3 separate regions of the Homo sapiens genome follow, and all the other regions are linked to region 1. Evidence: fine-mapped expression QTL. A gene starts in region 1. Each other region holds a variant in brackets. All regions are shown on one strand. Distances are from middle to middle. Region 1 holds the start of DMGDH (dimethylglycine dehydrogenase). Region 2 overlaps BHMT2 (betaine--homocysteine S-methyltransferase 2). Region 3 overlaps JMY (junction mediating and regulatory protein, p53 cofactor).

Evidence for each region. PIP is the estimated chance that this variant, and not a neighbour inherited with it, causes the effect.
Region 2: its variant is the best candidate, but not a certain one, in a credible set for the expression of DMGDH in atrial appendage (GTEx, PIP 0.79).
Region 3: its variant is the best candidate, but not a certain one, in a credible set for the expression of DMGDH in prefrontal cortex (BrainSeq, PIP 0.78).

The regions. Positions count from the first base shown.
Region 1 is chr5:79,065,036-79,075,412 of GRCh38, reverse strand. DMGDH (dimethylglycine dehydrogenase) reads left to right here and starts at 5,739. Exons shown (of 16, transcript NM_013391.3): 1 at 5,739-5,893. The coding sequence starts at 5,793. It overlaps BHMT2 (betaine--homocysteine S-methyltransferase 2), which reads right to left and starts at 5,646. Exons shown (of 8, transcript NM_017614.5): 1 at 5,598-5,646. The coding sequence starts at 5,630.
Region 2 is chr5:79,085,968-79,096,344 of GRCh38, reverse strand. BHMT2 (betaine--homocysteine S-methyltransferase 2) reads right to left here. Exons shown (of 8, transcript NM_017614.5): 8 at 6,276-7,852. The coding sequence ends at 7,771. Among named protein-coding and RNA genes, the nearest start is that of BHMT, 21 kb to the left of the region's middle. The variant G/A (reference allele first, on the strand shown) is at 5,072.
Region 3 is chr5:79,312,439-79,322,815 of GRCh38, reverse strand. JMY (junction mediating and regulatory protein, p53 cofactor) reads right to left here. Exons shown (of 11, transcript NM_152405.5): 8 at 10,318-10,377; 9 at 7,965-8,559; 10 at 6,506-6,816; 11 at 1-1,210. The coding sequence ends at 6,509. LOC102724530 (a long non-coding RNA gene) reads left to right here. Exons shown (of 3, transcript XR_001742756.1): 3 at 5,182-5,807. Among named protein-coding and RNA genes, the nearest start is that of JMY, 81 kb to the right of the region's middle. The variant C/G (reference allele first, on the strand shown) is at 4,723.

The DNA.
Region 1 (10,377 bases):
TAGGCAGCTTACTGGCCTACGTGTTGGGTGTAGGGTAAAACTAAGCTGTGTAAAAAAGAGGCCCCCACAACAGTGGCTTTAAATAAAAGTAGTTTCTTTTTCCTCTGTAAGAGGAAAGCCACTGTTTGTGGGGGACTCTTTTTTACAGAGTGTGCACCAAATTGCACAGTCCTTTTATCTTATTGCTTTGCCATTCCCTACGGCAGGGGTCAGCACATGACAGCCCACAGACCAAATCTGGCACATCACCTGTTTTTGTAAAAACAGTCTTAGGTAAAACCCTGCCCATTGATTTACATATTGTCTAATGGCCACTTTTCCACTACAGTAGCAGAGTTGAGTAGTTACCACTGAGACTGTATGGCCCCCAAGGCTAAAAATAATTACTATCTGACCCTTTACAGAAAGCGTTTGCCAACCCAGCCCTAGGGTACTGTCCTCCTCAGCATGGGGGAAACTGGATCAGAGTCACGTTCATACTCTGTCTCAAACGATGAGGAAACAGTGTGGCAAAGCTCATCCTAAAGTTTTTAGCTCAGACCTAGAAGTGACTCATCTCATTGACATTTACATTTCCTGCGTGAGAGTTTAGCCACATGGCTCTACCTTGCTGCAAGGGAAGCCAGGAAGTATCATCAGTGAATGTCCATGTGTCCAGCTCCAACGCTAATCCTTCGGAAGGAGGGGGAACAGATTTTGGAGAGAAACTGCTTCTGTTCTAGTGTCTGGCATCTGCTATTTCTCCTTTGCTTACTCCCCACACAAAGTGACCCACCCAGGTGTCAGGAGCGAGCTTCCTTGGATACCAAGGAACAAAGAGATCCCAAACACATTTTGGCCATATTGCTTGATATACTATTTTCTTCAATCTTTTCCCAGGAGGCTGGAAGGCCATAAAGGCAATAAAGAATAAGAGGGAAGCTAATTTGATCTTGGTTACAGGAGTCTTTGTCCTTAGCTGGGTCAATCCTGGATCTAATAAAAGCAACCAGAAATTAAAGCAGACGTGAGGATCTTCCCACAGAGCCTCCCAGGACAGTCCTGTTAACAGTATGGAACCAAACATGAGAGGTCAAATATGGCTTGAATAATCTCTTAATCTCCATCGAATGGCATGACTAGAGAGGGGGCTTATTCTAGCTTTCTCCCCATGTTCAGTTTAGCTGCAGAAGTACAAACCACTCTGACTAAGCAGAAAGGAGTTTAATATTGAGAAATGGGTACATAAAAAATTTACACTGGGCTTCCAGAAATGACCCCTAGAAAAACATGACTGAATTGGCCGGCTGGGGCTGCACCCTCTGCCACAACTAAGAGAAGCCACTATTGAACTGTTGGCTTCAGGACACAGCTGTCATATAGGGAGAAGGAGGCTGCTCCAGCGACCTCAGCTGCCCCTCACGTGACCCTGGAATGCTGCACTATGGCCACATTTGCTATGCTTCCACCTTCCCAGACTCATACTGGTGCATCTGATTGGGGATGCTAGTTCTTATCCAGATCCTAGCTGCAAAGGAGTCTGGCAAAGTGGTTAGTTTTCTTTCCTCTGCAGTGCAAGAAGGTCCATCAGAAGGGGTTTAACTAGAGGTAAATACCAGGTCACTCTACCTACAGCATCTTTTTACTGTGCACTTGGAGGGCAGGCAAATGGAGCCCAGCTGTGTGAACTATGTTAAACATAAACACTATTTTGGCAGAGAGAGCTCTCAACTCTGGTTATTTTTCCATATTTTATATCTAAAGCTGAATTTTAGCTGAATGCAGAAGAAATGTTAATATTTACTGATTCTCATCTCTTTCTTTCTCCTCCCTGCATCAAATGCAATTCACTCTTTTCAATTTGTACTTTTGAAATATAAAAAAGGCCTTAAATTTTGGACGTTTATTGAGACCTTCCACATGTCAGGTATAGTTGTGGGCAAGTGGGATAAACATCAGAATAAGACAAGGTCTCTGCCCTCCACAAGCTCAAAGTCTGGCTACTTTGGGGAAGGCCAATAAATCAACAAATAATCACAGCAGAATGTGACCAATAAATGCTACACAGGAATACAGAAGAGAAAGTCAGAGGTACAGTTACTGTGTACAAACTGTTTTCCTGAAAATCCCATACACTTCATTAGGTTCACCATGTTAAGAATCAAATTTAGGCCAGGCGCGGTGGCTCACGCCTGTAATCCCAGCACTTTGGGAGGCTGAGGCAGGCAGATCACTTGAGGTCAGGAGTTTGAGACTAGCTTGGCCAACATGGTGAAACTCCATCTCTACTAAAAATACAAAAATTAACTGGGCATGGTGGCAGGTGCCTGTAATCCCAGCTACTTGTGAGGTGGAGGCAGGAGAATAGCTTGAACCTGGGAGTTGGAAGTTACAGTGAGTTGAGATTGTGCCACTGCATTCCAGCCTGGGCAACAGAGTGAGACTCTGTCTCAAAAAAAAAAAAAAAAGAATCAAATTTACTCAAACAATTGTCGAGGGAAAACATTGGCACAGAATTCAGATGTTGTAGGTTAGCTTCTCACCTCCCACATCCAACCTATCACAGGGTTATGCCAAGTGTATTACACATTTCTCAAATGCCCCACCATCCTCACTGCATTTGATTATTGAAATGGTCTCCAGTTCTCTCCAGCCCTACTCTGAACTGTCTTCCATTGCTACCAGAGCACAGGCTCACTGACCCAGTCTCACCTGTGATTATACCCCTTTTGTGTCCTGCTTAACTTCACAGATCCTTCATTCATGCATCCCCCTGTACAGCAGTATCTGGTTACTTACTTGTCACCTCAGTTTGACTGTAAGAGGCTTGGGGGCAGGTGACATATCTTATTGGTCTATATCCCTACCACCACATATAACAACTAAAATGAGTAGACACTTAAGAAACTATGCCAAGAATTAGCAAATAAACAGGACTGTTTTGAAAATGTCAGATGTATTGCATATGCTAGAATTTTTGTCCTGAAGAAGAAAAAATGTTACTCTTTAGCAGACAATTAGGTAGGTTTTAAGAAAATTGTAGTATATATTTTGACTGTGTCTTTATGAAACCAAGTAAAGGGAGGACATTTTCATTTGTTATCTGGATGTTTGTCCACCATTTTAAATTTGCCATTTTTCTTTTCTTTTCTTTCTTTTTTTTTTTGAGACAGAGTTTCACTCTTGTCGCCCAGGCTGGAGTGCAGTAGCGCGATCTCAGCTCACTGCAACCTCCACCTCCAGGGTTCAAGCAATTCTCCTGCCTCAGCCTCGCAAGTAGCTGGGATTATAGGTGCATGCCACCATGCCCAGCTAATTTTGTATTTTTTAGTAGAGACAGGGTTTCACCATGTTGTCCAGTGTGGTCTCGAACTCCTGACCTTAGATGATCTGCCTGCCTCGGCCTCCCAAAGTGCTAGGATTACAGGTGTGAGCCACTGTGCCCGGCCAATTTGCCATTTTTCTACATAGCCATTAGCAAAATAACTAAGTTATCAAGATTTGAGATCAGAGCATCTTTTAGCCCTTCCTTCACTGCTATTCTAACTACCTCAATTAATTACTATACCAGTATGATCCCTTCTTTAGTTTTTTTTTTTTTTTTTTTTTTTACTTTTAAGTTCAGGGGTACATGTGCAGGATGTGCAGGTTTGTTACACAGGTAAATGTGCATCATTGGAGGTTTGCTATATGGGTTATTTCCTCACCCAGGTATTAAGCCTAGTATCCATTAGTTATTTTTCCTGATCCTCTCCCTCCTTCCACCCTCCACCCTTCGATAGGCCCCAGTGTGTGTTGTTCCTCACCATTATACTAGTACGATCTAAAGTCAACTGTAAAATTATAAAGACAGGAACATGTAAAATAAGGAACCCTGTAAATTAATTTTGCAGTACATTTATATTTTCATTCCCTCCTCCCCATCAGTTTGGCAGTGAACCTGCCTTGCATCTGACAGCGAGCTCTAGGGTGCATTTATGCCCCCTTTTTGCAGATATCACTACGTAAGACCTCTGGGTTTAAGATCTGGCTTCAAGACATCTCTATTCATACTCAGTGGGGATCAACTTCACTGTGTAGTAGGAGGTGATCAGAAAAACCCAGTCTGTCTAAAATAACTTCCCCTTTTCCTAGATTTGCCAGCAGAACTGCTCTTTTGGATTTAAGACCTAATTGGAGGTCTTGTCTGTGGCAATTAAATGAATTCTTAAAATGTACCTGCTAGCTGAGGAGAGAGGTGAGATTAGTTCCTTCCCATTAACACCTTAACTCCCAGGTACACATTCACATGGATTAGTGTGTGATAATCTTGGTGTTGTAACAGTAGAGGCCCCAAAGACACTGAACAAAAACAGGGCATTTTAAAAACGTTTAAAAATATGAACTGTAAAGATGAACATAGCATTAGAGAAAGTTGAGAGAAAAAAGCACAATGTTCTTTGATTATTTTTATTAACTGTATTCTTTCAATGCTCACATTTTGCTTTTATAACCTGAAAAAATATCCTAAAACATGCTTTTTAAACCAATATTCCACATCTTGTGTAACTATTACCATTATTGTGTCCTTCCTTACAGTGTGTATATAAATATTTGTATATGGTTGGGATCAGTTTGTGATATATTTCCTTTTGCAACTTAACATTGCCAAGGCACTTAGCTGGTTCTCATACTAAGTTATTTAACTGTCTAATAACTTAAGTAGATGAACCTTAATTTATTTAGAATCCCGTATTGCAGAGTATCTTGGTCGTTTCTAACTTTTTAGTATAAATAGCTCGGTGGTGCACATTTCCACGCATAAACTGCCCCTCCTCCCTTCCTCCCATTCTGAATGACAGGGCTGGAGCGGGTGGGGGTCTCTGAAGGGTCCTGGGGATGTCTTTCGTCCAAGCTCATGCCCTTCCTAATTTTGCTTAGTCACTCCTTCATCCCACCCCCACACATACTCGACGTAGAAATGGCTGGGCATAAAGCCAACATCTGGTGACCAGACCAGGAAAGGGGCCAGGAGCTGGGGACCACCGGGTGAGAGGAGGTTGAGGGGTGCTAGCGAATCCCACCTACCCTCCACCCTGCACCGCAGCTCTGGGGGCGTCCTTGCCCAGGACTAGTTTCAGACCAGCCGGCGACTCGCAAGGCCAGGCTGCTTGGCCAGGCTGCTGACTTTTCCAAAACGCGAGGGGACAGTCCGAAGAGTTCCCGGACGGATTAGCCCAAAGAGCTGCGGGCGAGGGTCGGTTGAGGGAAGAAAATGTGTGCGCGACATGCGTCCGAAAGCTAGACTTCTGATCCTCGCTCCCCGCGGGGCTGGACCCGTGACCCTGAGCTAGTCGCCTGACTCGCCGAGCCTCAGTTTCCTCACCTGTGAAATGGGGATAATTGTGAAGATGAGGAGATAACTTGAGCACAGCACTCTGTGCAGCGCCAGGCACCGAGTAAGGGCTCCATAAACGCTAACCAACCCGTGACAGGGGAAAATTGAGGCTCAGGGCCATCCCGTCCAAGTGTTTTGCCGAGGCCCCAGGGCTTGGCTAGGGATGGACGCCGGGTGTGAACGGAGTCGCTCGCAGCCCAGCGGCCAGGAGCTCCGCGAGGATCGAGGGGACGAAACTCACCTTCTTGGCCCCCGGGCGTCCAGCAGGTGCCATGGTGCCGCGGCTCTGTGGGCGCCGGGTTCCCGGGCGCGCGGCCGTCTAGGAGCCCGCCCCCAGCCCGGGGGGAGGATCCGACCCCCGCCCCGCCGGCCCCGCGGCCTCAGGCTGCCCGCTGGCCTCGGAGCAGGCGCCTGCGCCCTCGGCCTCGGCCTAGTCATGCTCCGTCCCGGCGCGCAGCTGCTGCGGGGCCTCCTGCTGCGGAGCTGCCCGCTGCAGGGCTCCCCCGGGCGCCCGCGCTCTGTCTGCGGCCGGGAAGGGTGAGTGGGGCCCCGTCCTGCTCAGAGGCGACGGGGCGGCTGCGGGGGTGGGAGCCAGAGGCTGAGGCAGGCTCAGGGGTTAGGAGCGCTCTGGCCTCCAAGAAATAGGCCTTGATATATCTTCTCGAATTATCTTTTAATTATAAAGTGAAACAGTATCCAAAGGTTCCCCGTGTAAAGTCTCTCCTGCCCCAATCCCCTTGGCCAGTGAACAATTGTTAATAGTGTCTTCTGAATCTAACCAGAGACAGTCTACGCATAGGCAAACACAGGTCAGTATAGGTTTTCCTTTGGCTTTTTGACATCTTGCTTTTTACAATTATCAATATATCTTGGAGATTGTTCCATATCAGCACACACTGACTTGCCTTGTTCCTTTTAATGGCTGCATAGTTTTCCATCCTGTCAATATTCTACACTATCGTTAGTCTATTCATTAACATTTAAATGGTTTTTGGTTGTTTATTACTGCAAATAACGTGCATGTGAAAATTCTTAGGCATCTATCTTTGAGTACATATGGGAGTCGGTAGCAACAGTTTTTAAAGGTGAACTTGTTAGGGAAAAGGTTACGTGCATCTGAAAGATTGAAAGACAGCAACACATTCTCCAAGTGGGTGGCAAGAGTTTGCATGCGGCACACCAGTGTGTGTCTGTTTCCCACATCTTCCCTGGTTCCCAGAATAGCCCATTTTGTTATCTTTGCTAAATCTGATAGGTAAAAATGGCATGTCCTTGTTTTGATTGGTCTGTATTTAAATATGAGCAATGCTGAACATCTTTCGACTTCTTATATTTGTAGATTATTCCTGGTTGCCAGGAAAGGCTTGTTTATCAGCATCACTCAACATTATTATGAGTTGATTCGAATTTTATTTTATGTCCTATGACCTGAAATTCTGGAATCAGAAGACCTGCTTTTGAGTTCCATCTATCCATTCAACAAATATTTACTGGGTGTTGTGATGTGCTAGGTTTGTCTCCAGTACTGGGAATGCAGTAGCCACCAACTCACAGTTCCTGCGCCATCTGTTACACAGAATGTGACCTTACACTTCTGAGGTTCAGTTTCCTCATCTATAAAATGAGGATACTAATTTTGCTCTATATAACTCACAGGATTGCTGTGAATATTAAATAAGAGAATGCATGTGAAAGTGCTTTGTAAATTGTAAAGCAATGCAAAAATATTTATAATAATGATGTTTTTAATCCAGTGCAAAATAAAATGGAAATTTAACAAACAAACTGATTAGATAAATAAGATACAAATTTCAAGACTATCCAAAAAATTCATATTTTGGCTGAGTGTGGTGGCTCATGCCTGTAATCTCAGCACTTTGGGAAGCTGAGGTGGGCAGATTACTTGAGGCCAGGAGTTTGAGACCAGCCTGATCAACATGGTGAAACTCTGTCTCTAATAAAAATGCAAAAATTAACTGGGTGTCATGGTGTGCACCTGTAGTCCAAGCTGCTTGGGAGGCTGAGGCGGGAGAATCGCTTGAACCTGGGAGGCGGAGACTGCAGTGAGAACCGAGATTGCACCACTGCACTCCAGCCTGGGCGACAGGGATTCCATCTCACAAACAAAAACAAAAACACCCAAAAGTTGAGTTATTTCAATTGCATATTCTTTATATACCCAATTTCAAACTATCAAAAAATGTTTTATTTTGGAAAGCAGTTGAACAAGCATACAGTTTGTGCTTATCATTTCTAATACAGAAGATAACTGACCTGGGTTTTTTGCATGGCTCCTAAGTTTTATTTCAAATACTCTTATAAACATCCTCGACTACATTCAGAAGGATTTTAAGATAGTTATCCACATAATCAAAAACACTATACCTAGTCTGAAACCTATTATGGCATGCTGGGCCGAGGAAATACTATATATTTGATAATGCTTTATCATATGTTGCCAAACAGAACCTTCACAGCTCCGTTTTGCAAATGAGAAAACTTTGAGACCCTTGTGTAAATTTCTCTAAAATAGCTGTTCAGTTGGATTGGGGACTCAAACCCAGGTTTCCTGATCTTAAGTTCTCTTTTGTTGTTGTTGTTTCAACTGACCACTGTCCTGAAAGAAATAATTCTTTCTTTTGAACACACAAAAAAGAACCTTTAAGATTATTATTTTTGTCACCACTATAATGGTTTCAACTAAAGTACAAGATATGCCCAGTCTGTTTAAAAATGGATTTCCGTCCAAAGTAGTTGGGTCATATGTACATTATTTTTTTCTCACACAGCATACAAAGAGACATTAATAGTCATCTAAAAACCGGTGAAACAAAACTGCTGAAACATGTTGTGGCACCAGGAAATAAGGACATGCTCTAAGAATTATGTAGCCATGTCAAAAGCATACAGGAGTCAACTGAAAGAACCTCCTGCTGGCCAAATCTAGGACAATTTGGTATTCAAATAAATGATGACTAGTAATGGATTAGAAACCACTGAAAACAATAAATATCCATAAATTCATGTTAATATAAACAACCAACAAACAAGGGTGAAAGAAAATTACTTCCTTACAGTAGAATGCCAACTATTAAATATAATAGGAATGATGGGGTTAGGAAATAATCAATAGATGTTAAAGCCACTCAGTAAAAGTTTGATAAGGACCAGGATATTTACATGGTCTCAAAGTAACACTTCACATTATTACTTATACAAAGGAAAAAATGGTAGCTTTACTAGACAAATCAGACAGACACCACCTTAAGCAAGTCATCAGACAGAAACAACACCAATATCAGGACAAACCAACATCATACGCTTCTTAATCATATACACTGGGAAGGAGTCAACATCAGTTTCATGATGTTTTTGCCAAAAATGCATAACATAAGTCTCATCATGAGGAAACACCAGACAAACTCACAGTAAGAACTGTTCTATAAAATAACTGGCTAGTACTGGCCGGGCGTGGTGGCTCACACCTGTAATCACAGCACTTTGGGAGGCTGAGGCAGGCGGATCACGAGGTCAGGAGATCAAGACCATCCCGGTTAGCATGGAGAAACCCCGTCTCTACTAAAAATACAAAAAAAAAAAAAAATTAGCCGGGCGTGGTGGTGGGCGCCTGCAGTCCCAGCTACTTGGGAGGCTGAGGCAGGAGAATGGCATGAACCTGGGAGGTGGAGCTTGCAGTGAGCCGAGATCGTGCCACTGCACTCCAGCCTGGGCAACAGAGCAAGACTCCATCTAAAAAAAAAATAAAATAGAATAACTGGCTAGTACTCTTCGAAAATGTGAAGGTCATAAAACACAAAGGAAGTATTAGGAACTGTTCCAAATTAAAGGGGATTAAAGAGACAGAATCCTGGATTTGATCTCTGACTGGAAAAAAGTAGCTATAAATTGATTGGAATAATTGATTAAATTTAAATATGGACTATAGATAATAGTATATCAATGTTAAATTTCTTGACTTTGAAAACTGTACTGTTGTTATGTAAGAGAATGTCCTTTTTCTTACCAAACTAGCAAAAGAATATTTAGAAGTAACTGGGTATGATACCTACAATTTACTCTAAAATGTGTATACACATAGAATATACATATTATAATATACATATATGTATAGTCATGTGCCTTATAATGATGTTTCGGTCAATGATGGACCACATATACAATGGTGGTCCCGTAAGATTATAATGGAGCTGAAAAATTCCTATCACCCAGTGATGTCATAGCTGTCATAATGTCATATGCAACACATTGCTCACGTGTTTGTAGTGATGCTGGTTAAACAAACCTACTGTGCTGCCGGTCACATAAAGCTATAGCACATGCAATTACATACAGTACATAATGCTTGACAATGATAATAAATCACTGTGCTACTGGTTTATGTATTTACTACACTATACTTTAAATCATCATTTTAGAGTATACTCCTACTTATAAAATAAAAAGTTAACAGTAAAATTGGCTCAGACAGGTCCTTCAGGAGGTATTCCTGAAGAAGGCATTGTTATCATAAGACATGACAGCTCTGGCCGGGCATGGTGGCTCATGCCTGTAATCCCAGCACTCTGGGAGGCCAAGGCAGGTAGATCACTTGAGGTCAGGAGTTTAAGACCAGCCTGGCCAACATGGTGAAACCCCGTCTCCACTAAAAATACAAAAATTAGCTGGGCGTGGTGGTACGTGTCTGTAATCCCAGCTACTCGGGAGGCTAAGGCACAAGAATCGCTTCAACCTTGGGGGTGGAATTTGCAAAGATGGCGCCACTGCACTCCAGCCTGGGTGACAGAGTGAGACGCTGTCTCAAAAAAAAAAAAAAAAAGGAAAAGAAAAGAAAAAGAGATGACAGCTGTGTATGTGTTATTGCCCCTGAAGACCTTCCAGTGGGACAAGATTTGGAGGTGTGAAGACAGTGATATTGATGATCCTGACCCTGTGTATGCCTAGGCTAATGTGTGTGTTTGTGTCTTAGTTTTTAATAAAAAAGTTTGAGGCCAGGCACAGTG
Region 2 (10,377 bases), 21 kb before region 1:
GTGGCATTATTCACAATAGCAAAGACTTGGAACCAACCCAAATGTCCAACAATGATAGACTGGATTAAGAAATTGTGGCACATATACACCATGGAATACTATGCAGCCATAAAAAATGATGAGTTCATGTCCTTTGTAGGGACATGGATGAAATTGGAAATCATCATTCTCAGTAAACTATCTCAAGAACAAAAAACCAAACACCTCATATTCTCACTCATAGGTGGGAATTGAACAATGAGAACACATGGACACAGGAAGGGGAACATCACACTCTGGGGACTGTTGTGGGGTGGGGGGAGTGGGGAGGGATGGCATTCGGAGATATACCTAATGCTAGATGACGAGTTAGTGGGTGCAGCGCACCAGCAAGGCACATGTATACATATGTAACAAACCTGCATGTTGTGCACATGTACCCTAAAACAAAGTATAATAATAATAATTTTAAAAAAAAGCGGTTTGAAATAGTGTATCCCACACTCATGTTTTAGTTGAACAGTTAAAATGCTTGTGTTGGTTTTACTTTTTTAAGACATTAAAATGGTTCCCATATTTTAATTTTTTTTTTTTTTTTTTTTTTTGAGACAGAGTCTCACTCTGTTATCCAGGCTGGAGTACAGTGGTACAATCTTGGCTCACTGCAACCTCCACCTCTCGGGCTCAAGCGATCTTCCCACCTAAGCCTCCTGAGTACCTGGGACCACAGGCACACGCCACCACACTCCACTAATTTTTCCTATTTTTGGTGGAGATGAGGTTTTGCCATGTTGCCCAAGCTGGTCTCAAACTCCTGAGCTCAAGTGATCCACATGCTTCAGCCTCCCAAAGTGCTAGGATTACAGGCATAAGCCACCATGCCCAGCCAATGATGCATTTTTGAATGTGCACTTTTGTCTATTGCTAATGACCCTGAGTCCTAACTCTCTCCTCTGTCCTAAATGCTTCCTCATCTACTCTGGTCTGGGCCTTCTCAGGGTTGCCCCCTGAGCCATTCTGTTTGCACAGCCTGCCATTTCACTTTCTGATGCCCCCCATTTCCTCCTTCCAGTCTCTTCAACTTCAGCTTCTTTAAAAGAGCACAATCTGATGCTGGTCTGTCCTACACCATGTGCGTGTTCTTCAAAATACTTTTGACAAGAGGATTCAGCAAGGCAACATAAGAGAGTGGCTTATTCATCTTTGCATCCTTTGACCTTAGCATGGTTTGTACATTCATTTACTTATTCATTCATTCAACAATTTTTTTTTGAGTTCTATAATGTGCCGGATGCTGAGAATACAACAACTAACAAGATGTTTTCACTGTCCTGTTGAGTAGGGAATAGGCAAGTAAACAGGAATGACCAAGGGAGTATTAAAACTACATTGAACTGGCCGGGCATGGTGGGTCATGCCTGTAATCCCAACACTTTGGGAGTCCAAGGTAGGTGGATCGCTTGAGCTCAGGAGTTCAAGACCAGCCTGGCCAACATGGTGAAACCCATCTCTATGAAAAATACAAAAATTAGCCAGATGTGGTGGTGGGCGCCTGTAGTCCCAGCTACTCAGTAGGCTGAGGCAGGAGAATCACTTGAACCCAGGAGGCGGAGGCTGCAGTGAGCTGAGATCTTGCCACTGCACTCCAGTCTGAGCAACAAAGTGAGACTCTGTCTCAAAAACAAACAAAAAAACCAAAACAAATAAGCAAAAACTACATTGAACTTATTAATGATAAATATAGGGTACTATGGAACATATAAGAGTGACTATCATAGTCAAGCACTAAATAAATGTTATTTGAACAGTGAATGAATGAGTGATTGAATGAGTGAATAAATTAAAAAATGGTTGAACATGATTAGTTATGAAAGCACAGAACCCTCGAGGTGAGTTGCCACCACCAGATGAAAAGATTCTCCTCCAACTTCACTATTTTGAAAGGCGGGCTCATCTGCACCTGTATCATGGAAAATACAACTTTTATTTCTCTTTCTCTCCTCTTCCCACCTCTGTGCTCCAGATAAATAATGGAGGTTATAAATGAAACGTGACTGCCAGCAATAGCACCACTAGCATGCCCCATCTACTTTTCTCAAAATCCTTTCACAAAACAACACTGATATGAGGCAAAATTGCACCCTTCTGCAACTCTTTTCAGGATTTTCATTACTGATTAAATAAAATATGTGCTCACCTTCAAGGCAGCTGACTGTACAGCCAAAGTGAGTTGCTTAACTTTGTTTATGATTTTGCATAAAGTATCAAATCATGGCTGTGATCATTGCAAAGCAGGAATTGTTTTTCCAGCTGACCCTCGCCCCTAGTTTCAACAAATCTCTTCGATCCCTTTCAGTTGGTTTCCATGCCAGCTATTTGCTGGTCTGCATTGCTGAGTCTATGCACAGCAGGGTTTATCAGAGGGCCATCTGCTCTTCTTGATAACTCCAGTACAGCAAACATCTGCTGTAGAACTGGAAAGAGCTAGTTCAAGCCAGTTTTTCTTAATTGCACTGTTTTTTTTTGGCAGACAATTACCTTCTCCTTAATTTCCCCCTACAAAATCAAAACCTGTGGAAATCTTGCCTTTTAAAAACGCCTCCTTTTTATATTCTAAAATATTTAGCATAAATTATAAATAGTAATCAACATTTAGTATGCATTTTAAAAAATTGCATTATTTCCAGAAATTAAGAACATTTTCCTGCATTGCCAAAATTAACCTGATTCCTTAGTCAAATTTGCCCAGTTGTTCCCAAAAGACCTCTTATAGCCAGTTTGTCTCAACCAGGACCATGCATTGCATTGGTTTGTCATATAAAGATGAGCAACTCCAACACAATGACCTGTGGAAAAGACCAGGCCAGCCAGCCTGTAGAATATAGGATTCACCTGATTGTGGTGTTTACCTTGTTCCTATATCCCTTGATTTCACTGAACTGGAAGTGAAATCTAAAGGCTTGATTAGATTCCCCCAGGCACTTCTGGCTGGTGTACATCATTGGTAATGTAGCGTTTCCCATTCTGTATCACAACAGGAAACTCATGTTATCTGATTTTTCCCCTTGGAATCAGAAATCTTGACATATGTTTTAAAACTAATTTATTTTGTAGAAAAAGTAATACCAAACCATATTAACAAATGTAGACACTAAAGAAGGGCATCAGAGAAAAGGAAGTCTTCCTCCTACACCACACTTTCTATCACCAGTCTTTCTCCCCTAGGAGGGAGATATTCCTTCCTGAAATATTCTATGTACACACAATGGGAGCATACTTTCATTTAACAATATATGGAGGAGATCCTTCCATCTTAGCACATATTGATATAATGTACTCTTTGTAATGATGCCATGCTTTAACATCCTGTAGATGTTCCATAATTCATTTACTAATATGTCATTGATGGATATTTAGGTGGTTTCCAGACATACATATTTGCATATATATGAACATAATTGCAGATTATATTCCTAGAAGTAAAATTGCTCATCCAAGGGCATGTGAATTCTAAATTTTGTAAATATGGACCAATTACTTTCCAAATAGTTTGTACCAGATTATGCTTCTACAAAAAGCATATGTATGAGAAAGTCTTTTCCCCTGCACCCTCATTGACATATTATCCACTTATTGATCCTAGTTGATGATAGGTGAAAAAAGGTATCTCGTCACTTTGCTGTGCATTTACCTAATTTTGAATGTGTTTATCTTTTTCTATATTTAATGGATTAAGGTAATTATTTCCTAATTTATAGATTAAGGAAACTATCCCTTAGCTTATCAAATGTATGCAAATATGTGTGGCAGGATATTAGTACTCAGATTGTGTTATTCTGTTCCCCCCACCCTTTTTTCCCAGCACTGGAAAGATATAAGGCAAATATTTCCCCACCTCTAATAAGGATGCCATTGAGAAAAGAGGACTTCACTTTCCTATTGCTTTTGGAGTGATGTCCTATTATAATAACATATGAAGAAAAGAAAGTTTTTCTGAAAACCTTACATAGTTGTGGGGATTGAGGGAGGTGGGGAGGAGGCAGTACAAAGTGCACGTGGGGGCGCACAGGAGCTGACCATCAATCCCCAGAAGTTGCCCAACAAGGGAGAGGACCTGCTTCTTGGGAAGGAAAGAGTCAAGTGGGGCTGGCAGGTACCATGTTACGGGATAACATATGAATGCTCAGAAACTGTCCGAGCTCTGTGTCAGTGCCTGTAGATCCAACGACCTGGCCCTCACATCATCTCCACGAGGTGCACTGTGCTTCCTGGGGCACCTGATCCACAACCTCATATCCTACACCTGAAACAGTGACCATCAACATGGCTGATGGTGTTGATGCTAGTGCTGACCCCAAGGCTTTGCTTGGTCCCAGCTGGGTACACTGTCCTCTCATAATACCTGTAAGCCCAAGAAAATGGAGTGGAGTGGGGTTCTGAATGCCAATCACATAGGCGAGCCCCCCTCACAACATCTGTTTGGGTTCGGGGAGGTTTGAACAAAAGCAGCTCAAGACCCCTTTACTGGAAGAGTGGTTTCTGACCTCTGTTACACAGTTTTCCTATTTGCCTTTGCCTTTGTTTAGAGTATTTTTGTGTGAGTGTTCATACATTTAAAGTTTTTATATGGTAAAATTTATCTTTTTTTCTTTCTTAATTTTTATTTTTATTTTATTTTATTTTATTATTTTTTTTTGAGACAAGGTCTTGCTCTGTCACCCGGGCTGGAGTGCAGTGGTGTGATCACAGCTCACTGCAGCTTCGACCTCCCGGGCTCAAGCTTCAGCCTCTTGACTAGCTGAGACTATAGGCATGCACCACCATGCCCAGCTAATTTTTGTATTTTTTTGTAGAGACAGAGTTTTGCCATGTTACCCAGGCTGGTCTCAAACTCCTATACAGTTTAGCACACCTAAACTGTACAGTAACTAGATAAAAGCCTTTGTTTGTGCTGGTGCAGACCCAAGGAAGGGATTCGGTGTGGAGACATCTCTCCCTCCTAATGTACCTTCTTCACTCTTGCTATTCTCATGATGTCCTGCACTGCCCTCTCCACAAAATCTATGAAGCAAGCAGGAGATATTGTGTAAAC[G/A]GTCCTCCCCTGGAATGTGGTGTTCAGGACTACATACTAAAAATAAGCAGAGGCTTTGGTACCAGAGTGTTCCCAGAAGACAGTCACCATGAGGATGAGGGGATTGGAAACCAAGTCAACATAATTATATTATACTATATAATGTGCAATGAATGCCTGTTATACGACATGCACTGTTTCTAAGAAACTTATCTCATTTAATCCTCATAGCACCCTAATAAGGATGGTTCTATTTTACCCTCATTTTACAGATGAGGAAATTAAGGCATAAAGCTTAAGTAACTGTACAGTGTCACACAGGTAGATTTGACAAAGCACATCTTAGCCTATGCCTTTTAGTTGAAGGAAATGAGGACAAGTAAGTATAGGAAAGCCATACAGCTATCTTTAAATTTCAAAGAGTTATATGGAAGAAATTATAAATTTGCACTTTAGGTGCTCCAAGTCTGCAGGTGAGGGTCATTAATAAATAGATTTCTAGTTAATACATGGAATAACTTTCCAGAGAATGAAGTGTTTCTTAAAAAGGAGTAAGTGATCTCGAGAGGTAGTGAGTTACTATTTAAGGGATTCAAACAGGGACTGGATGGTCCTGATGAAGATGCTGGCGAGGATATTCAGGTATTTAATTGGTGGTTTGGATTAGTCACCCTTAAGGACCCCAAAGGCCTTGAGATAATAGTAAATGATTCACTTTCTAATTTCCAGCAGGGTGGGGTTGTGTATTATGGGTAAAGTGGCTATATCAAATAAATTCCAGGTTGTCAACATTACAGAAACAGTCATGGCAGGTTTGAAGAGTTAATTCATAATAAGGAAAGTTGATAAAAAATACTTTGAATCCAGCGACAGAAAAATTTGGATAGATTTTTGACAAAAAGCAGCAGCTGTGTGCATGACAGATGCCGTGTAGTGCAGTAGCTAAGGGCATGGATTCTAGAGCCAGCCCCATGGGTTCAAATCCAAATTTACTAATTTCACATTTACTAGTTGTGTGACCTCAGGCAAGTTACCTAGCCTCCTTAAACTTCAGTTTCCTTACCTGTAAACTACTGTGTTAAACACTATCTAATTTTGAATCCCTGTTGGGGGGTATATGTAGATGAGATCATCTTTAGAACAAAGACTGCGACATAGTGAGTAATAAATATTTGCTAGTATTATTCCAAAGAATGTTCATGACATTTTCGACATTCAAACACTATAAAAGGTAAATCATTTTTATTGCCACAAATTGATAAATTGTTGTGAAAAAAAGAGAAACTGGCACACATGAAATAACACAAACATAAGAAGATATAAGACCAAAATAGATTTGAATTATGTCTCCCAGGCTGGATTGCAGTGGGGCGATCTCAGCTCACTGCAACCTCTGCCTCCCAGGTTCAAGCAATTCTCATGCCTCAGCCTCCAAGTAGCTGGGATTACAGGCATGCACCACCATGCCTGGATAATTTTTGTATTTTATTTAGTAGAGATGGGGTTTTGCCATGTTGGCCAGGCTGGCCTTGAACTCTTGACCCAAGTGATCTGCCCGCCCTGGCCTCCCAAAGTGCTGGGATTATAGGTGTCAGCCTGTGCCCCTGGCCTAAACTCTGACTTTTGAAAAGGTTTTCTAAAACTTTATTTTTAAACAATCAACAATAAGTATTTCACTGTGCACCTATTAGTATGTCTAACACAATGCTAAGTAAGGGGAATTATGAGAAGATTATAAGCTTATCACGTGATCTTGTCTTTAAATAGTTTATAACCTAGCTACCTATGATTATGAAGACACATTTTAAAAATTCTAGGACCTAATATCTTTTTTTTTTTTTTTTGAGATGGAGTCTCACTCTGTCACCCAGGCTGAAGTGCAATGGCCTGATCTCGGCTCACTGCAAGCTCCGCCTCCTGGGTTCAAGCGATTCTCCTGCCTCAGCCTCCCGAGTAGCTGGGATTACAGGCACCCGCCATCATGCCCGGCTAATTTTTGTATTTTGGTAGAGACAGGGTTTCACCATGTTGGTCAGGCTGGTCTTGAACTGCTGACCTCAGGTGATCCGCCCGCCTCGGCCTCCCAAAGTGCTGGGATTGCAGGTGTGAGTCACTTCGCCTGGCCAGACCTAATATCTTTAAGTAAAAATCATCTTTGAAAGTAATCACTTTGGATAGTTAAACATTTATTTCAATAATGCTACCATTGCTCAAAACATTCTTTACATCTTTTCTTTGGGATTGCCTTTGGAGTCATTGTATAAATCATTAAAAAAAGCAGACTCATTGCTTTAGTTTAGTGTTGCTCTATCATCCTCAAGTATCTAGCTTAGTCACTTGAATTATTCACTAGCTTTGGGTCTCAGTGACTTCTGATTATTTTAAAGTGTCAAATTCACCCTCAAAGACAAGTTTGGCTATTCTTCATGATCTTCAAAGGAATGCACCACAGCATGATTGGACAGTAAGTTCTTGGAGAACAAGGTGCCTCTCTCGCTTCTCTTTGCATCTCTGGTAGAGTCTGTTGCAGTGCTTAACCACAGCAGGAGCTCAATATGCACACACTTGTGGGCTGGAAGGGAAGGGGCTGCAGCACCTCAGCTGCTCAGCAGCTGGAGATAGCAGGGCATGGTGAGGATGAAGGTGAGGAACGGTTCCAGGTCAGGCTTGAGGGCAACTTTTTCCTGTTCGATTATTTCAGGGTTTTCTTTCACTACTCCTTAGAAGTCTGGCTTTGACAGCGAAGGACAGAAAGGTCTGCCTGAAGCTGGCAGCAGATTCTCCCAATACTCCCTTCGAGCCCTGTGTTTCAATATATACATAATTAATTAATTAAAAGTCTTACCTATAAGTCCAATATGTCATATATGTATATATGTATGTATATGTATATAACCACACACACACACACACACACACACACACACACACACACAGTCAAAACTTGGTGGATAATCAGGCTAAAGCAGAACTTTTGTTTTAACATACAGACGGAAAACTGTGTCCATATCCATTAATGCCAGGGGCCTTTCTTACATTTCAATAACAATCATTAGGTTTCATACCACCTTTCAGAAAAAGACAACGTATTTCAATTTCATATACTTTTTATTTTGAGACAGGGTCTTGCTCTGTTGCCCAGGCTGGAGTGCAGTGGCACAATCTTGGCTCACTGCAGCCTAGACCTCCTGGATTCAAGCAATCCTCCTGCCTCAGCCCCCCAGGTAGCTGGGACTACTGGCGTGCACCACCACACCAGGCTAATTTTTGTATTTTTAGTAGAGACAGGGTCTCCCCATGTTGCCCAGGCTAGTCTCAAACTCCTGAGCTCCAGTGATCCGTCTGCCTTGGCCTCCCAAAGTACTGGGATTACAGGTGTAAGCCACCATGCCCAGCCTTACATTTCACATACTTTTATGAATTATATTTATTCTGAAATTTCTAACAGAGTCCTTCTAACTCTATCAATATTTTAATGTAATGAGAAGAATACGAGAACAGTTTTTAATGTAATGAGTCAAAGTATAATTCTCCAAAAAGTAACTAAGAAAATAATACAAATTACTTTACCAATATTTGTTTCTTGTTGTTAGACAAAGGAAGAAGAGTACAAAGGTCCCTGGTCGTAGCCCTTTCTGATGAATATATTTTTATTGTTTTTTCCACTTTACTTACAAAACAATGAATAAATCAATATTTTTGGATGATGAGATGTCAGAAATCTAGTGTTTATTGTGTAATCATAAATTTCTGTGAATATCAGTAGGTTTGGGAGTCAGGGTAAAAAGGGTGTCTTCTTGCTTTGGTCTACAGAATAATGTTTTAATTCTAATAGCTAATGAATTTTAAGGATTCCTAGCAGATGATAATTAAATAAACTACTCACTTATTTAAACTATTTTAATCATCACCAAAGTATGTTTTCCTCACCTTTTAATTATATTTATATTTAATACTTTTTAAAAAGTATGACACATATACAAAACATCTTCTCTGGTAAATATCCATATCTCCTAGAAGAAAGCTTTGGCTAAGTGATTCTTGCCTACTTTTACAACCTAAGTAAATTTGCATTAGGCAAATTTTTCCAGTTCAAAAATGAAGACTTTCAAATCCCACTGAAATGAATAAATAAGCACAAAATGGGTGAAGTACATGAGAGTACTGAACAGAGAGAAGACAGCAGAGATTGTGACTAGTTCTAGAAGATGGAAGGGGGATGGAATTATATCAACAGATATACATACATATGTATATATATATATATATATATATATATACACACACACACACACATACATACACAAAAGATTATCTATATGGAAAGATAGAGAGAGACAGAGTATGAGTGTGTGTGTGTGAAATACAATGATCCATAACAGAACAGTAATTTTCTTGAGGCCCCAAGAAAAATGCCTTCAATAATAAAGTGACTTACTGTAACAAACAATATAATTTAGAAATTATAAGACCTCAGGGAAAGTGAAGCCCTGTTATTTTTCTTTCAACAATGGAAAAGGAAGTTAATCAGAAATCCCTAGAAAACCAAAGGCTATACAAAGAAAGTCAGACCAAGTATGAAGCAAATTGAAATATGGCATGGATTTGGACAATATATCCACGGGAATGCAAGAGAAGAAAATTCATTTGACCTTGATGCTTGGAACATTCTCCAACAAGTAGCTCAAGTTTTGTAAATAGGATTATTTCTCTTTATCCATGGTCCCATGCATACTACTTTGTTCTGCAGTGAACGTTTTTCTAAATGCAACAATTTTCTATTATTCCTGCAACAGAGTATTAGATTGGAAGTTTGACTGGAAACACCAAGGCATGATGGATTTTAGGTATCAAGGGGAGTTGCAAGACAGACACTGCACAGAAGTTAAAAGGAGGTGGCCACGAACCAGCCAGATGACTCATTTGACTGTCCCCTGGAAAATCTGGACCACAAGAGAACAATGGGCCAGCTACTTTGCTTGTGGGCAAAAGGGGTGCTGTTAAATTGGGGTCAGACCACACTCTCATGGCTTGTCTGCAGAAAGGGTGAAAGCTGTTTTGAGCCTAATGAGAGTGAGAGAGCCAGCCTGAACTATCTAAAATCTGGCCCAAGAGAATTACCGGGGAGGACAACAGGACCCCCAAATCAGAGTATATCTGGAGTGACCTGGTTGAAAAAGCCACTGTCTGAGGCAGAAGTCACAGTCAGAAAAATGCCTGTGGCATGAGAAGTACAGACAAAAGTTTCCAGTGGGAGCCTCTGAAGACCCATGAGCGTGCTCACAAAGATCTGCCAGGGTCAGAGGATGCCGGCTTCCTATCAGGGT
Region 3 (10,377 bases), 250 kb before region 1:
TTATATGTACAGGGTACTGCACACTGAGTCCAATGATCTACATGTATTCAAGCCCACAACAATCCTGCTGAAAATCTGGAACATATAAATGTGTCCTTCAGGACTCCATCACAGCCAAAATCAGCACCTAAAGCTGTGTATAAGTTTAAAATTTTAGTGACTATAACAAAGGCATTCTCCCAAAATTCCATTCAGTGCATGTGAAGATGGTGAAATGCCAGCCACGGAGACTTGTCTCTACTTTCTATCTTTGTAGAGCACATGCTTTTCACTGTGGAGCATAAAAATAAAAACTTAAAATGGTAATTTGTGAAAAGAGTTAAGATCTGCATCCCTATGATTGAATCTTGATTTTTGATTCTCAATAGGAAAGTCATGTCAGTCATAGCAATCAAGCAATAATTCAAACAAAATAAAAATAATTTGAAATATTATCAAAGTACTGCCTTCCATAAACAAGGATGCACATAAAATTCAAACTATTATAAATTCAAGAAATATGAAGAGTGATTTAAAAGCACGGAAACTTCAAAACCTTACAAAGTATAAGACTCCTAAAAATATGCCATGTTAAATGTATCATGTTGTGAACATATTAATAGATGTATCTCCATAAATGCAGCTTTTCAGATGTTGCTGAACATCTTTATGAAAAATCCTTTGGAAATGAGTAATGCGGACATTTTAGGTGTATTTCCATTTGATTTTAATGCCTGACTTACAGCTATCATGATGATAAACTTTCTCAGAGTGTCACAGTATTTAATATAAGCTGATATGGAAGAAGCTATTTTTTCAGATGACTTTTCAGTGCATTGAAAGATGGTTCTCAAAGCAGTCCCAATACAGCTCACAGTAGATCTCTGTCAACCCAGTGTTCTTCCAACTTACAGCAAGCCCTAGCTTAACTGGCCATTACAAGGATGTAAATATGTGGATGGAAGGAGAATGTGCTTAAAAAACAGAAATCTCCAGAAGGCCTTTTCTTCATTGCAGTCAGGAACATTGCACATGTAAAATTCATGTTAACCATCATCTATTGGAACGACTGGAAAGTGATAACCTGCCAATTGTGCTTCCTTTCTTCACACCACTGAACCAATGAACTTTGGATCTAATGTTATCCAACTGAGGAACCAAGTGCTTAAACTGTCATTTTCCAAAAGAATCAGAACCAATCTTGAATGATATTTTTCTTCTGTTATGTCACCTGTTTACAAACAAAATAATACAGACCATTAAAAAAAAGACCCTTTAAAGATACAGTGTATTTACGTTCCCTCAAAAAGTGTAAAAAAGACATTTTTTACAAAAGGCCATGACTGTATTCTTAAAGCAGTAAAAATGAAAACAAAATAATCTAAATACAGATTTTGATCACTTTTAAAAGACTATTAGATTTTCATTTTTATTATTTTTACTCTAACACTGTATGAAAACTATATACTAAAAAGGTAAATTCAGTCTAAACTATTTGCCCCATAAACTGCTACTAGAGTAAGAACAACTAAATGGTGTCTTCAAAATGCAGTAGAAACTGTTTTTGTTAGACTAACATTTAGAGGACAGGATTAATACCAATCTTTAAATGGATACTTCACCCGGGCATTTTATTGAAAAGTGTTGTGCTTAAGATCTATGGGGCGTACCCAAAGCACAGGAGCATTTATATAAAAGACATACTCTTCAGATAAAAGCTGACAGGAACATGAATAAAGTACCAACTTAATACAGTTCTGCATTTTCTAATACTGTAGCTACATGTGGCTAATGAGCACTTGATATGTGTCTAGTGTGACTGATCTAGTTTGATTTAAATCCAGTTTGATTTAAAAATCTAAAACAGTAAGTACTATTTTTCCATTAAATACAATTTTGCTGTTTTGGTAGGACATTTCTCATTAAGTATCAGATCCTTAGCATTCAAACTGAGATGTGCTACTAGTATATATAAAACATACACTGAATTTTGAAGACTTAGTGTGAAAAAAAGAAATAGAAAGCAATGTCCTTAGTTTTTAATGTTGATTATGTGTTGAAGGATACTACTTTGGCTACATTGTGTCAAATAAAATATTACAAACATCAGTTTCACATGTTCCTTTTCATTTTTGATGTGACTATTGGACATTTTAAAATTACATGTCTCAAACTATATTTCCTTTGAACTACATTGCTATAGTTACTTTAGAAGACTCCTACAGGGGCCTAGCACAGTGGCTCACGCCTGTAATCCCAGCACTTTGGGAGGCTGAGGAGGGTGGATCAGTTGAGGTCAGGAGTTCGAGACCAGTCTGGCCAACATGGTGAAACCCCTCTCTACTAAAACTTCAAAAAAATTAGCTGGGCATGGTGGTGCGCCTGTAATCCCAGATTGAACCCGGGAGATGGAGATTGCAGCGAGCCAAATACGGCGCCACTGCACTCCAGCCTGGCTGACACAGTGAGACTCCATCTCAAAAAAAAAAAAAAGACTCTCACAGGAAACAAACTAGAAGCTTATTTATTTATTGAGACAGATTTCCTCCTGCCTCAGCCTCCCAAGTAGCTGGGACTACAGGTGTGAGCCACCACGCCCAGCTACTTTTTGTATTTTTAGTGGAGATGTGTTTCGTCATGTTGCCCAGGCTAGTCTTGAATTCCTGGGCTCAAGTGATCCACCCACCCCCAGCCTCCTGAAGTACTGCAGAATTACAGGCCTGAAACTTAAAGTTCACACTCAGCCTGAAACTTATTTTAAACCTCTATGTAATTACATACATTTTAAGAAATTTCCTTGAGCATGACTATGGCTATCTCTGGAAAGAGAAGAGTTTCAGAGGGGAACGAACAAGGCAGAACAAGGGACCTTCATTACCTACTTTATGAATATTCAAGAAATTAGCTCTTAAAAGTATATAAGTACATTAATGACAAAATCTATAATCAAGAAATCTGGCCAGGCACAGTGGCTCACACCTGTAATCCCAGCACTTAGGGAGGCAGAAGCAGGTGGATCACCTGAGATCAGGAGTTTGAGACCAGCCTGGCCAACATGGTGAAACCCCATCTCTACAAAAATACAAAAATTAGCTGGGAGTGGTAACACACGCCTATAATCCCAGCTACTCCGGAGGCTGAGGCAGGAGAATCTCTTGAATCACGAGGCACAGGTTGCAGTGAGTCAAGATCACACCACTGCACTCCAGCTTGGGCAACAAGAGTGAAACTCAGTCTTGAAGAAAAGAAAAAAAGAGAGAGAGAAAAAAAAAAGGAATCTAATAAATTAATGGGAAATACAAATTGCGGTAAAGCCTTCTTAGCCATTTGTAGATAAAAAGTTCACAGCCTTTTAGTCTCCATGATCACAAAGTAGTGATACACAGCTACTTCATCACTGCCTAATCAGTCCATACTAGTCTATGGTTTGCTTCTGGGTTAGCACACATTTAGTAAAGGGAGACTGCAAACTTCCAAGCTCATATATTTTCTAAGTGTTTCACTGTTTCTCTCTCAACATTGTACCACATATTCCAGCCATCAGCCGTCTCCCACACCCCCGAAAAAAGTTTTAAGCAATTTTCAAAGTGTATACACCATGCACCATGTTAACATCTGATACTAAGGCTAAATTAGTAGCCAGAAGCTATGAGTAACATCCCAGCCACTTGAGTATACAAAATGCTGATGCAATGTCTAGGGTTAGGCAGGATATGGTGGGATGGGAGGAGACAGACAAGGATAGGCTGACTTGAGCAGCTGCTGGTGTGCTGTGAATGGGCCACTGTGGACCATCTGTAATGAAAGAGCTAAACACACATTTATGTGAAGGTCCAGCTGTGGAATTAGTCAGTGCAAAGATGGTAGTTTTAGGCACAAGCTTAAGCAGCTTCCTGAGAAGCTACAGCAGAAGGAAACAACACATGGTAGTAAGAACTGTAAAGTGGGAGACAACCTACAAATATCCACTATGGAAAAGATTCCCAGTTAGACATACCTGAGAGTCTAGACATTCACAAACTGATATGCATCCCTCTCTCTCTCTCTCTCTCTCTCTCTCTCTCTCTCTCTCTCTATATATATATATATATATATTCCTTTACAAAGCATAGTGGACATATGTACAAGCAAAAATAACTCGAAGTTACTTTGGGATCCAAAAACATAAGTCATACAAAGTGACTGTTACATGTAACTGTATACATAATAGGAAAAAAAGCAGGATAATGCTACTACTGAATGTTGGCTGAATCATGGTGAATGTAATATTACCCTTTTTAAGTTATTGATTGATGCAGATGCTGGTGGAGAGGTACTACAGGAATATTTACCTAATGAACCCATACCCAAAGGAACAGGTGAAACTGCTTTCAGTAATATTTTACCTAATGTAACTAATAGAATCTTTCAATATGTAATCAGTTGTTTAAAAACTGACATACATTACATTTTTATATTATGTCTTCAAAATCTAGATGTGTACTTGCATATACATTAGATCTACTCAGAATTCTTTTTTTTGGGCCAGGCATGGTGGCTCACACCTGTAATCCCAGCACTTTGGGAGGCTGAGGTGGGTAGATCATTTGAGGTCAGGAGTTCGAGACCAGCCTGGCCAAGATGGTGAAACCCTATCTCTACTAAAAATACAAAAAAAAAAAAGAAAAAAGAGCCGGGCATCATGGCAGTCGCCTGTAATCCCAGCTACTCAGGAGGCTGAGGCACGAGATTCACTTGAACCCA[C/G]GAGGTGGAGCTTGCAGCGAGCCGAGATCATGTCACTGCACTCCACCCTGGGTGAGAGAGTGAAACCCTGTCAAAAAAAGATTTTTTTTCTTTGTTGTTCTACTCAGAATTCTTAAGTCAAGGACAGAATGTCCATTTTTAATAAGCTCCCCAAGTTAATTCTTATGATCAAACATGTTTTAAGAATTATTATGCTAATCGGGGCAACCATAAGGAGACCCTGTCTCTACAAAGAAATTAAAAAATTAGCCCGGCATGGTGGCATGTGTCTGGAGTCCCAGCTACTTGGGATGCTTGATCCCAGAAGGTTGAGGCTGCAGTGAGCCATGAACGTGCCACTGCACTCCAGCCTGAGCAACAGAGGGAGACTCTGTCTCTAAAATAAAAAAAGAAATTCAACAAAAATAATTCACAGGGCTAACACATGAATTAATTATTCCTTTACTTATTCCCTTCTAGGACTCAAGTCTTCCCTACTTTGGTGAATGTTTGAAGCCTAGAGAAACATATTCCATCAAGAAAGAATAATAATTAATAGAACATGTTTGTATACTCTATAAATTTTATACAAATTACAACATTTCAGTTACCATCATTATAAATTTGATATACTGTTTAATTTATACCATGTTATCTTTAATGTTTCTATATATTTGGTGTAATCTGTGCCATATTACTCTATAATTAGTATATTAAAATGTAGTAGACTATAGCTCTCTATTATATTAGGAGAATGCTACATGTGTAACCAAAGAGAATCTTAATATGTATAGGAGTATTCATTAGATATGTAGATAATTTTTATATATTAATGATACCTGCAAATTTGTCTAGATAATACAGTAACTGTGACAATAAGTAGTTTTTTTTAAGGGTTTAGAAAGTTAAATAATCAGACAATGCAACAATTTTTCCAGAATGATCTTAGAAAACTCCTTTGAGGTCAGCTAACATGACATCAAAATTCAGTGTGCATAACAGTTTGTTACTGAAATACTTTGTCAGAAAAGGCTTTGCATTAAAAAAAAAATTGACGTATTGATTTCTTTTTACAGACGGGGTATTGCTATATTGCCCAGGCCGGATTTGAACGCCTGGGCTCAAGAGATCCTCATGCCTCAACCTCTGAGTAACTGGGACTACAGAAGCGAACCACTGAACCTGGAAAGCCTTTTTTTTTTTTTTTTTTTTTTTTAAGACTGAGTCTCACTCTGTTGCCCAGGGCAGTGGCACGATCTCAGCTCACTGCAACCTCCGCCTCCTGGGTTCAAGTGATTCTCTTGCCTCAGCCTCTCGAGTAGCTGGGATTACAGATGCCCGCCACCACGCCCGGCTAATTTTTATATTTTTAGTAGAGAAGAGGTTTCACCATGTTGGCCAGGCTAGTCTTGAACTCCTGACCTCAAGTGATCTGCCTGCTTCAGCCTCCCAAAGTGCTAGAACTACAGGTGTGAGCCACTGTGCCAGGCCCTTTTCTGTTTTTTTAGGGCAAGAATGAGACTGTCACTTTACTTGCAATTACAGCTGTATAGCAGAAATTTTTAATGAGGAGGACATTTTTAAAAATAGTATTTACATAGCAATAATCATTAAAAAGTTATCTTAAGTTTCTAGAAACTACAGAATTAAGTAAAACCTGAAGTTCATAAATTTGTGATCCATGCTAAAATTGGGTTATAAAACAAACGATATGCCTCAGGCTCAATAAAAAATACCCCAAACCTCATCATCCGATATAAAACCTGTATTACTGAATGCTACTAAAGACAATAAGGCCGTTTACTTGTTAGTTCTCCCAGTCTGTGCAAGGTAAAGCCTCCTCTTCGTCCTCTGACTCTGGGGATGCTTCTTTAATTCTTCTAAGAGCTTCATGGATGCTCCGTGTTAGAGGGTCTGTATCGGGTAGAAGTGTGAAGGATTCTCTCAAAACATCCTTCTGTACCTTCTTCAATTTTACCCCTTTCCTTATTTGTGCCAAGATATTATTACTATCATCTTCATCAGGAAAAGGAGGCAGAGTTCGCTGTTCAACCTTTTTCAGATGAAAACTACCACGCTTCAAGGAGGCTAGCACCTCATCCATGGGTGAGCTCACTTTGGAAAATGAAACAGAACAGTATTACAGTTAGGACTGCACTTAATTAGAATGAAACTGTATAACCTCTACCGTTCGCAACTGTGAAAGCACAGGACGCTGAAACACCATCTTCAAAATGGATCATGAAATGTGTGCAGAAGGTGATCAGAACACAAGGGATCCTAATTATCCTTCTTTTTAGAAAATCCCAAGACCCAATCCATGGTGGGTACTGTTGGTATTCCTATCATTTCCTACATGAGAGAAGTGACCAGATTGGGAACTGGGAGGTGGTCTTAGTAGTATTATGGGTGTGATTCCCAAAGGATTTCCATATTGCAGTTGCTCCACCCAAATTCAGAGTGATGGGGTTACACATTTTGTTTTTAAAAATTAATTTTTGTTTATTATGGAGACTGTGCTTTTTTCATTTAGTTGTTTTACATGTGAAATCCTACTCAGATTACATCAAGAAATGTTTTATAGAATGGTCCTTCAGGTTAAAATGTAATATACAAGTAATATGTAACATTTATATAATGTTCTCCCCATGCAAAATGCAAATTCCTTAAAGGCAAAAGGCAAGGGTTATTCTCTGCTCTTTTTAGAAATAATTTTATTTGTGCTTGAATCTCTCTTAACAAAAAAAATTAGAAAAAAAAATAGTAACCTTATTGAGGCACATCTGTCACATTGTAAGTTGAACAGATTACTCCCTGTTCTTCTTTGCTTCTTTATACAAATACACAAAAGTCCTCAACAAATGTATGAACAAATGTTACATGATCCTGCCAATGTCTTCCCTGTGGTGACAGTCCTTACCAGATATCTTACCCTTTCTGATATGAGTATTTTTTTAAAAATCTCAGGTTTAAAATCAAAACTTTTTCCCTAACACAAAAGGAGCCACCCATTATACATTACCAAACATGAATGTATCACTTTAGAAGATCTGTTTTTAAAACATGCCTAACAGCCCAAGAAGGCATACATTTCTGTGTACTTTATGCACTAAGAATTCTCCTCTAGTGTGACTTTGAAAACCTGTTTACTATCAAATAATGTCAAAAATAAAGTGTTTTAAGCTTTGCAACGTCAAAAAATATAGTTTTTTACTATGCCTGATGTCATACAACAGATGGACCATGAAAATATGTTGACGTACCTCTCCTCCTCTGCAAACCTTCAGCAGTCTTTCTGAGCTTCTTCCGTGCACTGACCAGCTGGCTGCTGTCAAAGAGGTGTGCTGAGGGGGCACTGGCTGACTTTGGGATCCTCTTCTCATTCCCCTCCTTTCTAGGCAGATCTTTCTCCAGTGTCTCTGGGCCACTGTCCTTAGCAACAGGCAGAGGTGGTGGTGGTGGGGGAGGGGGAGGAGGTGGGGGAGGTGGTGGTGTTGGAGGAAGAGGGGATGGGAGTGGATTTATGGTAACAGAACATGGTTCGAGGTTGTTATTCAAAAGTGGAAGAGATATAGTGGGAGGCAGTTCAGAGGTAACACCACTGAGAGGTAATGAGGTGGCTTCAAGTTGTGTTAATGAAGTATCTTCAAGTTGCACAAGGCTCTGGGGTTCTGTTGTCTGTGATGGCCCACGCTTGACTCTTCCTTCTCCCACCTCTTCAGTTTTCTCTTCTACCTGTAACACACTTGGTAAAGAGTCACAATGATCCTCTTGGAGAACAGGACTTGCTGCACCTTTTCTTCTTGCATGAGCTAGTCGTAATCTGGTTGATTTAAGTATGACTTGCCCAGGATACCTCTAAAATACCAGAAGTTATTGGAACTGGTTAAATGTTATTGAAACAATTTATGAGCACATGCCTATTTATTTTCTCCTTCAAATAAAAGATGTTATGTGGCCGGGTGTGGTGGCTCACGCCTGTAATCCCAGCACTTTGGGAGGCCGAGGCGGGTGGATCACCTGAGATCAGGAGTTTGAGACCAGCCTGGCCGACATGGTGAAACCCCGTCACTACTAAAAATACAAAAATTAGCTGGGTGTGGTGGCAGGCACCTGTAGTCCCAGCTACTCAGGAGGCTGAGGCAGGAGAATTGCTTGAACCCGGGAGGCGGAAGTTGCAGTGAGCCGAGATTGTGCCACCGCACTCCAGCCTGAGTGACAGAGTGAGATTCCATCTCAAAAATGTTATGTTGGCTTATTGGTTATTTCACCCTTAAAGTTATACAGAAAATCCGAAAGTACCTAATAATAGCTTACAAACAATTATGAATTTATTATTTGCCTATCAAATCCACGATTGATAATTCAAATATTCAAAATTATGATTAAAAAAAGATTTTTAGTGAATAAAACTACTAAATGTATAAAACAAATAGCATGTAAAATGCAAAACATAAGTGATGTCAAATGTATAAATGCTACTGGTATGCAAAAAGTTTCCTATGTTTTCAAATGCACACACGAGAAAATTAAAATATTCTTTAACAGGTTACTTGGCATTTTTAAAAAGCTCCATCAACTATATATCCATTTTATGACAGAATGAAGAGAGAAATACATTTTTTTCAGTACTTACTGGTAGAACTCTTATATATATTTTACCATGGTAAGACCTTTTGTTTGTTTGTTTGTTTTTGAGACAGGGTCTCACTCTGTTGCCCAGACTGGAGTGCAGTGGTATGATCACAGCTCACTGCAGCCATGACCTCCCTGGCTCAGGTAATCCTCCCACTTCAGCCACCCAAATGGCCGGAACCACAGGCATGTTCCACCATGCCAGGCTAATTTGTATAGAGACAGGGTTTCGCCATGTTACCCAGGCTGGTCTTGAACTCCCCGGCTCAAGCAATCCACCTGCCTCAGCCTCATAAAGTGCTGGGATTACAGGCGTGAGCCACATTTACTTAATAACAAGGCTTTTCCCCTGCCTCACCTCCTTTTTTTCCACTGTAACACTTGTTCAAAAGCCTACTTCACCTACAAAGTGATCCTTCAGCATGCATAACTGAAGTAAGGCTCCAGAGTACTTTAAAAATGAGAACTGTGAGGCTTCAGCACAGTTCTGAGGAGATGTGTGGATACTGTGGTATCAGTGTGTGGTCATGGCTTACCCTGGCAAGAGAACTGCTGAAGCATTTCTCAAATATGCTGCTCCCCTCCACCTCTAATTCTGCCAATGGTCATTTGATGTATTACCACCACAGGCTGATGTATGTGGAATAAATAACATGCTGATGCTTGAGCTGGATAGTCAGTTGTGATTTAACTAATTTTTTAAACTCAAGAGGAATCTAGGTTTCCCAGAGGCCCTTATCATTCCTCTTATACTACTGAAGCTGTGGGTCAAAGGTCACAAGAATACTAAATTCGGAAAACCACCAGAGGAAATGGAGCCATGCCATTAAAACAATTTTAAAAAGGACTTCCATGGTTATAATAGTTTATAAATAAGGGAAAACCAAGTTTTTCCCACAAAGAAATCCTACAGGTGTATATGTAGCTCTGTTAAAAAAAAAAAAAAAAGAAAAACAATAAATGGACCATTACTTTTAATACCTGTTTAAATGTTCGAAGTCTATCCAGTGTTCTCTGTCTCTCTTGGCTAACCCAGGCACT